Regions from separate parts of the Homo sapiens genome. Here region 1 is linked to region 2. A link means that fine-mapping ties the variant in region 2 to the expression of a gene that starts in the linked region. Tissue or cell type: testis. Region 2 holds a variant in brackets; the other region holds the start of a gene. All regions are shown on one strand. Distances are between the middles of the regions.

Region 1 (8,098 bases), 28 kb before region 2:
CTGCAGCAGGATTTGTCAAGATGATCCGTGATTCACAGAGGGAGCCGGGAGAGACCCCTTGACGGGTCCCCGAGCGCCTCTCAGCCCCATCTCCTCCTCATCCATCATCTGCGATGATTCTTAAAGAACGAACACATCAAGCTTGCTGTCACAATGTTTTAAAATGTTGCAGTAATTAAAAACCACCGGTAATTTCTTTTCACACAGATGAGGCTGTCTTTTCAAACCAGGGCAATGGAAACACCCCACACGCTGCACACCTGAGCCCGCGCACGCCTCCCACTCTGTCCGCTGGCACACTCTGCTGCCCGACCCTCTCACCTTCTCTTGCACACTTTGGTACCTCGTCATTCTCCTGGTCCCATCTAAAAGACGTCCAATCTAACAGACCCAGGATGCGAGGCACACTCTGCCTATTCGGCATCACAGAGTAATCACAGTGACTTGCAGTTACCCATCTCTCAATAGTTTCTTTTTAAAAAGTTCATCTCTTCTCTAAATGGGCTTGATCTTGACCTGCACAGATCATCTGGAGTTGAGTGGACACAGGTTCAGTGAAAACGGATCAAAGGGGCTGTTGCTGGGCTCAGTCAATCAACTGCAGAACGTCTTATGGCTGCAGGCTAAGAAGAGGAAACAATTCAACGACCAAACAAAGGTTAATCTAGTAACTGCGGCAAGGCCCAGGTAATTTCCATAAATATGTGGAAACAGCAACCACTTCAATAGTTTGGCCTGGCACCAATATGAGGAGGAGCTTGGAAAACCGGACGTGGACCCCCTTTCAGTGCCCTGAGATCCATCGAGCAGCTGAATGGAGGTCGGTGCTGGGGGCCAGGGGGCACCCACACAGACCAGTGAGCAGCTGCCCCTTCTGGAATCTCACAGACTTCTAACACCGAGGGGTCCCCGGGTGCCAGCTGTGCTGCAAGTGGACAGCCAGCCTCTGCTCAGACATGTCTGGAGATGGCGAGCTCCTCCCTTCCAGAGGGTTCCCAGAAAGGGAATAGGAGAAGCTCTTGGCCATCATTCTCATTACTCTCCACATCCTGGCAGAAACTTTATTCCTCGAGCACTTTGTTCTTTCTGCCTCTGTAGAATGAGACTCAGCCATCAACAGCAGCTGCTCACATCCTTTGTTCCCAAGAACGTCGTTCCCTCCATTCGAGTGTGCAGGGGACTGTGCATGGGGGTGCAGGTGTGATTGGAATGTCAGGGTTTCCCCGCCACCGCTGGTTTTGTTTTTTCCTCTATATCCAGCCAATGAGCACCTCTTGTGCACATATAGATCCTCAGAGAGAAAGAAAGCCTGATGCCTCTTCTTCATGAGGCTGTAAGTCTTTGAGCAATGAGGCTATCCAACTCGACTCCAAGAAACGGATGCGCACAGAGGTCCTGCTTGTATAGTGTCAGGCTGATCTTACGCAAGCCCCATTTGCCCTAAGTGGAAAATGAACCTTTGTAAACTGCCACCCATGAACCAATGTGTTGGGAGGTGTTCAACCAACTTGGCCATCTGTTGAATTTGAGTTATATCCACGAAGCTCTGTTGTGGAATGATGCTGGTGGTGGGGACAGAGTAGCTGCCGTTGGCTGAGGTTGCCACGCGACTAAACAGCTTATTGTAGTGGATGGAGAACCAGTCCGGCGGCAGAATGTCACTCCTCCCACCCCCGGGCCTGTTTTTGGCCAACCTAAAAGAACTGCGTGTAACTAGGATCCTTTTTTTTGCACGCACCAGGAGAACTTGCTATTTAGGGAATCCTGATGATGAATTGTTTTTATAAAGTCAGACCAGAGACTCTTCCTTGTCTTTCTCTCCCCTCACCCATTTTTATTTTCTGAAATTGGTTTTTGCTTAAAATCAGGGCATGCTTTTGCACATAAATAATGAGTTTGGTGGTGACCATCTGGCATTGCGATCCAAATGAAATCTATTCAGTGTAGTCACCTCTTTGCTGGCTGTGTGACCTTGGCCAAGTCACTTCACCCCTTTGTTACCATCTGTAAAGCGAGGGCAATGCAGGCATCTACTGTACATATTGTGGGTAATATTCAGACCTCTTTCAAATAAAATGGGCTCCATTTTAAATAAGGTTTCGTCATCACGGGCATCAGGAACACATCTCTCTCCACAGCATGGGAAAGAAACCAGCATGTCAAGAGGCCAAGAGCTACAGAGTCTGAGCTGGTTCCACAGAGGTTTCCAGCTGCTCAGATCTATAGCTGCAGGATTCTGCAGAGTTTGAGTAAAAAGTCAGCATGGGGAGAAGTGGAAGGGCATTGAGCTGGTTGGTAAAGACAGGGCTTGGCAGTGATGTTGCTTTTAAAATTCTTGGCACACACTTGCAACTCTCAAATAAAAAACAAGTTGCTCAGTTGTCATAATGGAGTTTTTGACTAAAAGTGATGATTTAAAGGATTCCTGTGTCAACTCCTAGGACATCGATTGGCTGGCTGGTTTGTCTCTTCCTCCTGGCTCTCTCTCTTTCTGCCTTTCTCTCTCTCTCCTTATAAGGAATTTCTATCCGTGTTTACCATCCTTCTTTCTAGGTGGGGCTGGTTGGGAAGGATGTAGAAGTTCTAGAAGAAGGGGATTAGGAGCAATGGCTTGGGAATCAGGCCGATCCGCCTCAGGTCTGCTGCTGTTGAGCCTAAAGTTTTCACCTGCAAAGTCAGGGTAATGACAGTATCCATATCTCATCGGATCGCTGAGAAGACTAAATGAGGCAATGCTCGCACTGTGTTTAGCCTTGTGTCTAGCACGCATTAAGCACATAATGAGTGATGTTTATCATGAGACAAGTGCCTGGTGGGAGCAGGTACTACTCGCAGTTAATTAATGAATCAAACACAGCCCCTGGTCCCTTGGGAAATGAAGCAGGTGATGTTTAATTATCCTGCTTGGAAGAGAACAAGATACTCACAGGGGGCAGGGACCAGCTTTTCCCATTAGTTAAGAGGAAGGAGGACTAGCCTGGTTTGCTATAAGAAAACTCTCTATGGTCAAAGTGACCTGATCAGCCTGGAGAAACTCAGCAGGGGCCCTTGCCAGGGGCCCCAGCAGGGGAGGCAGCAGGCTGGACATTTGGAGCATGTCTGTATGGTGTGAACACTCACTCTCTTGTCCATGGGCAAGTTGCTCACCCATCTGTGCTCAGCCCATCTGTAAAAGGGAAATGGACTCCAAGCACTTTACTCTTCTGTTTGTCCTCAGTATTCTCATGTCTAGAATGAAGCAAGGTTATGGTTACTACCAGGATGGAGTTTTTTTATAGAGAACTTAAAGGTTGATCATAATGAAAGCACACATTTAAGGCCAGGCGTGGCAGCTCACACCTGTAATCCCAACACTTTGGGAGGCCGAGGCGGGCAGATCACTTGAGGTCAGGAGTTCGAGACCAGCCTGGCCAACATGACAAAACTCCGTCTCTACTAAAAATACAAAAAGAACAACCTGGGTGTCGTGACGCATGCCTGTAGTCCCAGCTACTCGGGAGGCTGAGGCAGGAGAATCACTTGAACCCAGGAAGTGGAGGTTGCAGTGAGCTGAGATCACGCCACTGCACTCCAGCCCGGGTGACAGAGTGATATGGCTCAAAAAAAAAAAAAAAAAAAAAAAAAAAGCACACATTTATATGGTGCTTTCCCACCAGGCACAGCTCTGAGTGCTGTACATGTTCTAACACAAAAGCCTTCCTAACATTCTTAACACCAGATTTCTCTCCGTTCAGGGTCCCTGCGACCGCAGGCTCAGCTCGAGGACCTGCAGAAACAGGGAAATGCCTCCTGGGGCACTCCTCTCAGGAGTAGGAGCCTTGGGTCAGAAAGGTCTCCCTCGTATCCAGCCCAAATCTGCCTTGCTTTAACGTCTAGCCATTGGTCTTAGCTCTGTGCTTTGGGGTCAGGGAGAAGGGATCTGCTCCCCTTCCCCGTGGATGTGGGAGAGATCCAAAGGCAGCCGCCATGCCCCAAACAGCCACTCACCAGGAGCAGCGTAAGCCTTGCTCCTCCTCTCAGTTGCTCCGGGGTTGCTAACTCAGAGAAGGGAAATAAATAGTAACAAAGGCGAGCATTTATTAAGTACTTATGGTGTGCCGGGCCTCGAAACATCATCGGATTTCATTCTCAGACCAACCCTAAAGGTGCTGGTGTTAACTCCCCATTTTAAAGATAAGAACCAGCCGCTCAACCAGGATAAGGGACTTGCCCTACTGCGGATAAGCAGCAGCTTCGGCCTGACTCCAGATCCCAACGTTGTGGAAGCCGGAACGCCCCGAGAACAGGCGGAGAGCGGAGGGAGCACCGCAGGGCGCCGGCCAGGGTGGGGGCACCCCCAGGCCTCCAGGAGGTCGCGCGTCCCGGGCGAGAGCGGACGAGCCGTCAGCACCAGGGACAGCTCCCCAGGCCGCTCCCGGCATCCCCCGACGACTGCGCGCGCGGGCCGGTGACGCGCGCTCCCCGCCAGGCTCGGGCGCGCGCCCTCCCCGCCAGCGCGCGCCCTGCGCTCGGGACCAGGCTGGAGCCGCGCGTGCAGCTCGCAGGGAGCCAGCCGGGGCGTCCGGAGTCGCGGCCGCAGCGCGGAGCTGGCAGGGGTGCCCGCCTGGGCACGCAGTCGCCTCCCCGGGGGCCTCCCGGGCTTCTCAGCGCCCGCCTCGCCCGCCCAGCCACACCAGGCGCCACCGCCGTGGCCTGGGCATGAGCGGCCGCCGCTAGCTGCGCCCTGCCCGGGTCGGACGCCCGCCCGCCCCGTCACGTGCGCCCAAGTCCTCGCGGCCGGGGCAGCGCGGTTCCCATGCTTCAAGGTAAGGGCCGAGCGGGCCGCGGGTCACGGGGTGTGGGGCAGAAGACGCAGGCTGGAAAGCTCCAGCTAGGTGCCCACTCGTCCAGAGTGCCCACTGCAGCCTGCCCCGGCTGCCTCGCACCAGGTCCCCTGACCCAGCTGGCGTCACCCATCCCCTGGCTTCCACCCTCAAAGCGCATCCCCGAGGAGGAGACTGAGACCCAGGTGGGCACGAGGGCCTAAGGGAGAGGTGGGGGACCCACTTTAGGAAGGGGGGCTTCATTTCCCTCGGAACAGTGGCCTGGGGGCAGGGGGCAGTGGGGAGGGAAAGTTTCCCAGAAGAGCCCTCTGGAAACCTGGCCGCCTTCTCTCCCTGCCAGGAGCTAAGACTTTTTCATTTGCTGAGCTTTGCCTTCTTCCAGAGTCGGTGCTGCATTTTCATCCCATCCCATTCACCCAACACCCACGAGAAAGGGGCATTGGCCCCATTTCACAGATGCAGAAACTGAGTCTCCGAGAGGTTTGGTCTCTTGCCCACGATCACAGAGTGGGGAAGTGGTGGAGATGGCCTCAAACACGCCGGCCTCTGTCACCACCACCTCACACCTTTGTCTGTTAGGAATCTCTGCTTCATTGACAGGTGGGGGGTTGCCTAACTGACACTAGGTTTCCTCAGCCAGAAAAGAAAAGACTCTACACACCAAAAACCCAAGAGATATTCAACATGGGTCCTCAGGGCTCCACTGTCTCACCCCACTCGTGTCCTGTCCTCCCGCAGCCACGGACTGCCTGGGCACAAGTGGTCCTGCCAGTGTGTGTCCCGTAGCAACCCCGATGGCTCTGAGACAAGAAACTCAAGGGTCAAGTTCATGGAACCTTCTGCAGGGTAAGGGGAGTATCCTTGAGGCCTGAGCCCCAGCATTCGTCCTAGCACCTTCCCCAGTAAGCAGGAGCTCAGGAGAGCCAGCGGGCCACCCTGCCAGCCTTCTCCCTTGCATTTCCCTCAGCCCCTGCCAACTCACGCTCTTCAGGGCTTCTGGGGAGAGCAGTAATTACCAACCCCCAAAAAGTTCAGGGTTGCTGGGAAAGCACCTTTGCCCATCTTCCCACCTTCTCCCTCTTATAGAATTGAGAGTGAAGTGGAGGTGACCAGGGCTCTACCCACCTGAGCAGGTGAGAACCAGCACTTCCTGGGCTGGGCAAGGGCTGGTTTTAACTCTTGGTGCACTGACTGCAAGCTTCCTAAACAGCTTAGGTGCTGGCAGCTTGTGAAAAAATCTCACCCTAAGGCTCGGGGGCCCAGGAAATGTGGGGTTTTGTTCATTCGGTCTTGCACTTGCTGGCAGTTTGTTGAGCATCTGCACGATGCTATGAAAAGACCCACAGGGCAGTCTTTGTATCCTGGATCCAGCTGGGTTTTGGTTTCCCTATCAGCTGAGTTTCCAATGGGGCCGGCTTGTCTAGACTCAGCCGGAAAGCTTGGAAATGGCTCCCGAAGGATCTGGGGGTCTGGGAAGGATGCACAGGCTCTCCCAGCCTCAGTGCCCCACTTGCATGGGGAGGGAGTGGGAGCTCCAGGGTGCATTGCTGGACTCTCAGGACGTGCTGACACCACTCAGAATCCTGGCACACAGAGGTGTTGCAGCTTCTCCACCCTCGCCTCTCCAGCAGGTAGGGCAAGGAGCCCCACAGAGCTCCTCCTACCCTTGAGGCTGGAGTCCCCAACACACGTCTGTCATGCCAGTACCATCAGCAAACATGAGCAAGGGCACCTGGGGAAAGGTGGGCACAGATGGAGAAGTCGGGACTCGAGTTCTGTCCACCTTTTTGGGTGACCTTGGGCAAGTCACTTTCCTCTCTAGACCTCAGTCTCCCATGTACAAAATTGTGGGGTGGATCATTTCATGTCCCCCCTCTGAGCCATTACAGCTCTGTTCATCTAAGCCCCGGATGGAGTAGGAAAGCTGGGAGGAGTGCAGTTCCTCCCTTTTTGCCATGGTATTGAGGGAGTGCAGAGCAGTTTTGAAATCTTCGGACTGACCTGAGTCCAAGCCCCCAGTCCGTGCCAACCCTACTCCCTACTCACATGATCACCCCCGTTTTGTATATTTAGGGGCTGGCTCTATATTCCTGACTTTTCTGGTGCTGGTTCTGGGTGAGGCTTCACAGCATGGAGACCCACTCCTGCAGTGAGACCTCTGGCTCCTGCCACGTGGGCCTGCCTCTGCAGCCTCATGGCAGCGGGCTCCAGCGAGGAATAATTACAGCACTCGGGAGGGGAGAGATGTATTACATCTCAGTCAATTACCTCTGACTCTAAACTCTCGGGGCAGGAGGGGAGGCAGAGCAGCAGCCGAGCCCTTGTTCTGTCCTCCACTCCGCTCCTGGCCCTACCGCCACTTCCCTCTTCAGAGTAGCAAGTCCTGATCTGTGTGTTGGTAAAATGGCAATTTGTGTGGCAGAGAGAGTGGTTTCCAGGCCAGACCACGGGTGCATCATTCCGCATCCCCATCTGCAAAAATGAGGGTGCTCCTGCCTTCCCTGCTGGCACATGGGACACCGGGGCAACCGTGAGCCTGGCCAAAAGGCTTTTGGATGCCAAGAGCATGTGGTCCTGGGGACCACCCTACAGAGGCCAGGGTGGGGCTGGGGGGCTTCTCTGCCAGCTGCTGCCACACTTGGCACTGGTACTTCTTGCAGTGTCTCAGTCTTTCTGGATCTGCTCCAGAGGGGATTTGATGAGTTCCGAGGCCTCAGTGTTTGCCAGCTCCCTCCCTCCGTTGCTGAATCCTCCCGCAGGCCTTGGCCCAATCCCCGCTTGCTGGGGGTTGCTGGAGAGGGGAAGGAATCCTGTTGCCCCTGGGGTGAAGTGGGCTGGTGGAGGTAGAGTTGAAAGCCCAGCTTTGCTGCTTTCTGGCTGTGGAACCCTGGGCCTGAAGGTCTTGGGCTGGAAAATGGAGACTGTGCCTCCTCCTTCCCTCGGGCCTCATCAGTGAAGGAGGAGGCTGGAGAGTCAGGTGGGGTCCGGTTCCGCCAGGCTTGTAAGCCCTGCTCAGTGGTTGGGCTTTCCGCCGCAGTCCACAGGAACCAGGCTCTGGGAGCCCGGAGGGACATGGTTCGCTCTGCCCTTTAGGGACCCTCTCTGGCTGCACCATGGGGAATGACTTGGAGAGGGGGCCCTGCAGGCAGGAAGCTGGGGAGGAAGGGAAATGATGGAGGCCTGGACCAGGGTGGTAAGAAGAGGGCAAGTGACAAGCATGTTGAGGGCTGGATGTTTGTGTTGGGGTGATGGGAGACGGCCTGAGACTGCCCAAA
Region 2 (8,098 bases):
CGGGGCTGGATGAGCCAGAGGGCACGGCCAGTGCCGAGGATGTAGGCCTTGGCTTCTCCCTGGCTCCTACCACGAGCGCTGGGCATCTCAGGTGAACGAGGCAGACAGAAGCCTTCATTAAGCGTCGCCTGGGCCCTGTACCATGCAAGGCAGTGGCGGGGGCTGGGGCTGGGGCACAAAATAAATAAGCTCTGGAGGGGTCCGTTCCCGTGGGCTTTACGGCAAGTGAGGGGGATGTGGCAAGAGGGACAGAAAACTAGCAGAGTCTGAAATTCAGCACGGGACGTGTGGCCCAGATGGTGGTTAGCAGGGGGTCTCCTGCCAGGGAAAGGTGGGTGTGGGGAGGGGGCTCCCGGGGGAGGCAGGTGGAGGCCCGTGTCTGGCTCTGCTGCCAGGTGTTTCCTGCCCCACCCCCAGCTCCACGCCATTCATTCCTCGGTGCCGGTGCCGCAGGAGACAACTGAAGCTTGTAAACGCAGCTGGCTCTCCCTGCCGGCTACAGAGACGAGATGGGGCCCTCAGAAGGGGACTGTTGCCCGCCCAGGCCCCCTTGCCACAGACTCTGTGGACTGGGGTGGGGGACGCACAGGGGAGCCCCATCTCACAACCTGTCCCTGTAAAAACCCGGGGTGGGAACAGGGAAGCAAAGCCATTTATAAAGCTTTAAAACCATTTATGGTCCCAGGGGGCAGATAAACAATTCAGCGCTATTCTCGCCAAATTGCCTTGGCTGGCAGTGCGGAGGCTTCAGGGAGCTGGAAGAGGGGTGGGGCTCGAGTCACAAGCAGGCGGCAGAGTAGCCTCTGCCAGGCTGTTGCTGGGCCTGACCCGCATGGCTCTGCCTCCGAGGCTTGGCCTGTGCTGTTCCCAGCACCAACAGGCCCTCTCCTTCTTCTCCCAGCCCATCCTTCACAGCCCGGCTCAGAAGCTTCCTCCTCCAGGAAGTTTCCCTCGGTTCCTCCCCCATCCGTTACCACCCTGAGCAGCCAAGTCCTCCCCTGTTCTCTCAGGCACTCAGCTTTCTCAGAGCACAAGTATCCTTGGGAGCCAAAGTGTCTGTAGCCCTTCCCGTTCTCTGCCTACCCTTGGAGGGTGTCATCTGGCTTTTTCGCCTTATCACTTGATGTTTGTTTACATTTTCATAATCCTGACTTTGTTGGGTGTCTAAATCATCTGGATTCCTGGCAGGACCAATTAAAAATCCAAGTCCCCCAGAGTTGGGAGGAATCAGCGTCTAAACCCTGCCACACCCATTGTACAGATAAGAAAACTGAACCCAGGGAGAGGCCTCTGACCCAAGGTCACCCGCAAGAGTAGAGCAGGACAGAGGCCCCGCAGACTCGTATCACCTGGGCCACAGCTGAGTAGAGTCCTGGGGTCCCCAGGGAGGAGGCTGAAGGTAAGCACTCAGGGAGGGCAGCAGGTGGTCCATATTCTTCCCCCATTAAATGAAGGGGTGGGACCTGGTCCCTCTCAGCTCTGGCGTTTGAAGTTTTGAAGTTCTGTGGTGTGTATTAAAGTTCAGGAAGGCTTCCTGGGAGAGGAGGGCACGTGCTGGGCTTTGATGGCGTGGTAGGTCCGGGGGGGGGATGGGCATCCCAGAGGGTGGGGCACAGCTAGAGCAGAGGGGAGGCAGGAGGGTGGAGGCCCAGGGAGGCCGTGTTTTTGGGAGCTGCTCGGAGTGAACTGTGGTCTGATGTCAGGCTGGGCGCTGGTGGAGCTGCCAGCGGAGTGTGTGTCTGTCGGCCATGCCTGGCCCTGGGACCTGGCGCCGTCTCGGGCGTTGCTGCTCCTCGGCAGGCGTGTATCTGCAGAGCGAGGCTGAGAGGCTCCAGCTGGACCAGCCTGGGTGTTGGAGGGTGGCTGCTGACAGCCCTGGGCACCTGGCCTGAGCCGGCACCCTTCCCGTCACGCCGCCAGGCTGCTCTCCGCTGGAGGAGACCTGGGCCCAGAGGAGCTGCAGCCAGGCGGAGCCAGGGACCGGCTGCATCTCAGACCTGAGAGAGAGCTTTGCGGCGAGCGGGGCCAGCTCCCTCAGGGACCCGATGAAGGACTCAGACCCAGGGAGGGACACGGTCCTAACATCAGCACAGCACTGAGCATGGTGCAGCTGCTGTCCCACAGAACCCCTGGGGTTCTCCCATTTTATAGAGGAGGGAACTGAGGCAGAGGAATGGAGGCACTGAAGGCCCATTCTTGCAGCTAACCAGAGGCAAAGCCAGGCTGGCACTTGGGGGTTTAGCCTGGGTGTCCTGTATGGCTCCCCAGTACCTGTCCCTGAGGGAGCACCTCAGCCCAGCCATGGCCACCTACAGTCTCCATCCTCCCTGCAGTCTCAGCCTGACAGCAGTGGGAGCCCCTCCACCCAGGCCCATGCTTCCCTATGGGAAAGCAGTGGCCCCCATTGCTATCAGTAAGCCCTAGCAGTGGGCCCTCAGCCATGGCCCGTAGTGGAGGGTGGTGCTGAATTTTAATCCCTGCATGACCACAGACAACACTCGGGCACGAGCCTCCACCTCCCTCAACCCCTCCCAAGCTGTGTGAGTGCCCTCATTGATGAAGTGGGGCCATAATTACCTGGGTGCAAATAGCAAAAATGCCCTCCAGGTGACATACACACAGTAGGTGACATACACACAGCAGGAGTCACTCTGCAGGTGTCGGGGAGGGATCGGCACCTGAGTCAGGACCACAACAGCAATCTCTCCGGCAGCTGTGGCCTTCCTCGCTCCCTCCGGGGACCAGCGCCTTCTGACTCTCCAACATGTGGCTGAAAACCCCACCCGTGGCTACAGCCTGGCCACAGCCTGAGCACTCATGTCTCTACCCAAGGTCAAGCGACCAGCAGGGACCGGCCAGTGTCTCAGGCCTTAATTCCATTTCCCAGGAGAGAGGCCGGCTGGCCCAGCCTGGGGTGCACGTCCATCCCAAACCCAATAAACTGTGGCCGAAAGGACAGCAGCAGAGGGCTCAGAAGTGGCCACCAGCCTCTTGGCTCAGGGCACAAAGAAGAGGGCCATGGCTGGGCCAGCACCCCCAAACCTGCTATCAGCACAGTGTGTGCTTCCCCAAAGGAGCTGTGGCATTCAAGGCATTCACGTGGAGGAGACATGGGGTTCAGCAGTCGGGGTAGGGTGGCAGGGGCCCCAAGGTGGATGGTAGCAGCGGATCCAGCCCTGACCTGACCCAGATCCCTCATCTTACTGGTGCTGGGGCCTGGGCGGGTCATTTCTCTCCAGGCCTCGGTTTGCTCCCTAGTGGGATCATTTGAACATCAAAAAGAATCATGACTGCAGTGGACTGAAACGCATCAAATATATTTTCAAAAATCAGTGAGATTGCACTGGGCAAGTTTCCACGTAGAAAGGCAAGCTGGGGCAGACAACAGGCTGGGACCAGTAGGCACGCGGGGCCTGCAAAGGGGGCAGGGTCACTTTTGGTTCACTGAGAGGTGTGGATCTGGGCTGGCCTGTTCTCCGTCCTCTCGGCACACACACAGCCACAAACCTCAGGGCACCAGCTCATTCTGATCCCTGATAAAGGGAGGAATGGAACCTCTGAGCCTTCCCTCTGCAGGCCGCATGCTAGGGTAACCACACAGATGATAAAGGCATGTGCTTTAGAGCTTTTTCAAGAAGAACTGGAGCTCATAAACGTGGAAAGAAGGATAACATTTGGAAAGTCACTACTTTGTAACTCCTAGTGAAGTAACAGATCCAGGTCACGCACAGGATGCTGCAGCAATGGGCTGGGAGACCCCCCGGAATCTGGCAATGGAAGAACTGGCCGAGAGCAGCTGCAGTCATTAGCTGATTGTGACGTCAAGATGAGGGGGACAGCAGACA[C/T]CAGGCCCCTGGGAGTGATGCAACAGGAAGCCAGTTTAGAGGAGAAACACTGATAAAGGAGCATGTTCAATGCCATGCGAGGAATCCCGGCCAGCTCCAGTGCCTGGAAAATTCTGTCAGATAAACAACCCAGTTTCTCCAATAAACAACATGGGGGTGCGGGGCGTGAATGGGTTTTGAGCTGTTCTAGAGCAAAAGGAGCCAAAAGCAAGTACATCCTGATTTGAACTAACCAACCGTAAAAAAGGCATTTCAGAGACGACAGGAGAAAGCTAAACGTAGGCTGGGTAATTTTTTTAAAATCCTCCTCCGTCAGATGCTGCACTGGAGTATTTATGGGTAAAGTGATATGCTCTGTGATTTCCTTTAAAATACTCCAATCTCTTCCTCCACCCCATACCCCAGCAAGAAAAAAAAATAAAAATGAGGCTTGGGAAATTGAGGAAGGGAAGTGGCGCCAGCTCCCACTGCTCTGTGAGAGGTGATTGTGAAGAATTTAGGAATTTTGTAAGCCGCTTGTCAAACCTTGCTTGAACTGAAACTGGCCATGGTAAGAAAATCTACACCACAAAAATCAGCAAATGCTCCCAGCCGGGTGCTTTGAGAGCTGGTTTATCAGCACAGCCCAGGACAGGGATGAGCTGAATGCAGCAGCCACTGACAGCATCACTCCAGCCTCCCTGCGTTGTGTTTGATGGACATTTTCCACAAGAAGGAGTTTGCAAAGGGCATGTCCCTAGGCCTGGAAATCCCACTTCTAAGAATGTATCCTGAAAGCCACTGAAGCAGGTTCAGGTGGTTCCCATTACTTAGCTACAAAGACGCTTATTAAAACATTGCTAAAAATATTTCTTTAATGTAAGAAGCCCAAACGTCAGGCAGGAATTGGTTTTCAGTTTTGCAAGATGAAAAATTCTGGAGATTAGTTGCCCAACAGTGTGAAATATAATTCATGCTACTAAGCCGCACACGTACAAATGGTGAAGATGGTACATTTTATGTGTGCTTTACCACAATTAAGCATTTTAAAGAAAAGGAGTCAGTTACATGAAACAATGGAATCGGGTTAGAGACTATGTTGCAGAAGAAAATTTAAGGATATGGCAGAATAATGGTGACTGTGTGAGATGAAAATGCAGGGAAGCAGGTTACAAAACCATATGTTCGGCCTGACTGCATTTGGGTAAATTTAAAAACGTGCAAGCTTGTAGAGCCAGGCTGGAAGGGCGCCATTCATTGACAGCATGCTACACTAAGCATGGAGAGACACGCTTGTAAAAGTGTCACAAAACCCTGTGCTATTAGCATCCACCTTCTACGGATGTGGAAGCTGAGGCTGGGAGAGGGGCAGGGACAGAGGCCAGCTGAGGCAGAGCAGGACCTGGGCTCCTGCTGCACCCCGTCCCCGGCAGAGCCCCTGCCTCTCACAGGCACATCCTGGGGTGCTTTTTTCCCCTCAGCTTGTCTTCTCAGTTCTCTAGAATAGCACGAGTGACTTTTGTGGTGAGGAAGCGTGATGCTCTAAAGCTGGCGGCGTGTGTTGCAGGCTGTTGATGGAGAAGGGGGCGGATGACAGCCGGGACCGTGGTCATCACCGGGGGCATCTTGGCGACTGTGATTTTGCTCTGCATCATCGCTGTTCTGTGCTACTGCCGGCTCCAGGTATTCCCGGGCGGCGGGGAAGGGGACAGGGCAGGGAGGCCCAGAGGGTGCCCCTACCTCGGGAGGGAGCCCCGCCTGAAGGTCACAAGGGTCACGGCCCGGGAAGTGGGGAAGAGCCCTGTGGCAGAGAAGACACACAGCAGAAGGCAGCAGGACCCTACCATGGGGCTCAGTAAGATGCGCCTGACTCCCCTCACCCAGAGCTTATAAAGAGGCTCAGAGACGGGAAGGGACTTAGCCAAGGGCACCAGCTGCCCAAAAGGAGTGTCACAGTGAGCAATCCTTCCCACCTGCACTCCAGGGCCATCCAGAGTCTCCATGTCTCCCTGAGAGATGAGGGGGAGCCATCGGGGCAGGGCGAGGCAACACAGCTGCCAGTGCCTGTGACCCCCGGCTCTGCTGATGTGGGGCTGCGAACCCCTCCACGCCTCAGTCTCCCCACCTGCAAAATGGAGATAACAGTCACACCTGCACGTTGCTGGGCGGAAGAGATGAGTGGATCGTTGTGAAGTGCTCAGCACTGCGCCTGGCCTGAGTGAGACCCATAGCACTGGTTAAACAGCTGAGGTGTCAGGCCTGGGCTTGGGCCACCCCACTCCCACCGTGCCTATCTCCCCTCCCCAGTCAGGGGTAGCCTTTCCCACATGTCGGTTCTGGGGTGGGAGCGGGCGGCCGCATGGTCACCGTCCCTCTGCCCGCAGTACTACTGCTGCAAGAAGGACGAGTCGGAGGAGGACGAGGAGGAACCAGACTTCGCCGTTCACTCGCACCTGCCCCCGCTGCACTCCAACCGCAACCTGGTGCTGACCAACGGGCCGGCGCTCTACCCCACCGCCTCCACCTCCTTCAGCCAGAAGTCCCCGCAGGCCCGCGCCCTCTGCCGCAGCTGCTCCCACTGCGAGCCCCCCACCTTCTTCCTGCAGGAGCCGCCGGAGGAGGAAGAGGACGTGCTGAACGGCGGGGAGCGCGTGCTCTACAAGAGCGTGAGCCAGGAGGACGTGGAGCTGCCCCCGGGGGGCTTCGGGGGCCTGCAGGCGCTCAACCCCAACCGCCTCTCAGCCATGCGGGAGGCCTTCGCCAGGAGCCGCAGCATCAGCACCGACGTGTGACCTGGGCCCGCCCCCGGGATCCTGGCCTTGAAGGTCCTGAGACAATGGGGGGATTCCTTTGGCACACCCACCTGGCCCCAGGCCCCAAGTGGGGCTTGGCTGAGCCCTCCTGGAATCCCTGTCCTCAGGGGAGGCCCAGGCTTGGGGAGCCCCCAGGCTCGTGGCAGGGATAAGGCTCATTGAACACAAATGTGTCCTGGGGGGAGGCACAGCTGGGGCCTGGGGCTAGAAGGACCAGGTGACCATACAGCCGGCTGGGCATGCACCAGGGCTCTCAGGCACAGAGGCCACCGTTACTCCTGATGATTCTGTCTCAGACCCAACAACCTGGCCTTCCCAGGAGGTCTCCATGTGTCACCCCCTCCCTGGGTCTCACCCTTCTCACCTGCTCAAGGAAGGGATGACCTCAGTGAGGCCCAGGGCCCTGCAGCAAGGCCCTCCCTGGCAATTGCAGACCAAGGATTCTGCTCCTCCACCTTGAACTCCAGCCTCTTTCTCTCCATTTTTCCCTCTCTCTCCCCTACCCGTCTCTCCCTCTCTCTCACACACACACTCTTCCGGGTTCAAGGGCCAAGTGTCTGCCTAGGCTGAGACACGTGCTGAGCTCCCTGAAGATGGACCAGCTGCCCCCTAGAAGGGAGACTTTCAGGGGCATCAGGGCCCTTGGGATGCTCCGCCCTGACCAGCTTTTTGGTGGCAGAGGGAGGCACGGGGAGAGGGAGAGGCCATGTCGCAGTCCCCCTGCCGTGGGAGAGGCAACGTGGAAATGTATAGACCCAGTGCTCAGCCAGAAACAGGGCCAGCAAGCGGCAGTGAACGGAGGCAGCCCGGGGCTCGTCAGGGGCAGAGCCATGGCCCAGGGGTTGAAAACCCCCGAGTTCCCCGTGAGACTTGGCTGGCCCTTCCCACCCCTGGGCCTCAGTCTCCCCATCTTGTGTGATGAGGAGAGACCCTGAGGACAGAGGTCTTCAGGCTGTGGGTCTCAACAGGAACTGAGATCCCCAAGGGAGACAGAGTTGCAGGTCACCTCCCCTACCTGCTTCTCAGCAGGACCTAGGAGGCCTGGCCCAGCTCCTGGTGGACCCCAAGCAGCCAGAGCCTACTGCTGCCATCTGAAGACCTCATCTGAGCCCACTTTCCACCAAGCGCCCACCCAGGCTGAGGTCTCCTGGGAATTCTCACCCGCTCTCCTGCTGCTAAGGAAATGACGTCAATGGCTACCCCAGAGAAATGCCCCACATCCCAGGACACCAGCCATCAGGAAGGCAGCTCTTCCTCACCCAGAAAGAGGCAATTATTTCCTCTCAGCAGCCTGGCCCCAGGAGCCCCCTTCCCTCTCTGGGGCTCTGCCTCTCCTTTTGTGCCCTGCCATGGAGCCCCAGGGCCGGGGCAGCCCCTCTCTGCCCAGGGAAGGCACCGCCCTCAAAGACAAGGCTTGGCCGGGCAGTGACCTTCCCTGAGCGGAGGGGTGGCTTGAGCAGG

What was found. PIP is the estimated chance that this variant, and not a neighbour inherited with it, causes the effect.
Region 1: FAM163B starts here. The variant in region 2 is fine-mapped to the expression of FAM163B in testis (GTEx, PIP 0.96).

The regions. Positions count from the first base shown.
Region 1 is chr9:133,605,784-133,613,881 of GRCh38, reverse strand. It overlaps FAM163B (family with sequence similarity 163 member B), which reads left to right and starts at 4,493. Exons shown (of 3, transcript NM_001080515.3): 1 at 4,493-4,805.
Region 2 is chr9:133,577,540-133,585,637 of GRCh38, reverse strand. It overlaps FAM163B (family with sequence similarity 163 member B), which reads left to right. Exons shown (of 3, transcript NM_001080515.3): 2 at 5,392-5,507; 3 at 6,209-8,098. The coding sequence starts at 5,415. The coding sequence ends at 6,616. It overlaps LOC124902296 (a long non-coding RNA gene), which reads right to left and starts at 6,200. Exons shown (of 2, transcript XR_007061833.1): 1 at 5,798-6,200; 2 at 3,299-3,853. RefSeq lists an enhancer at 7,413-8,028. The variant C/T (reference allele first, on the strand shown) is at 3,846.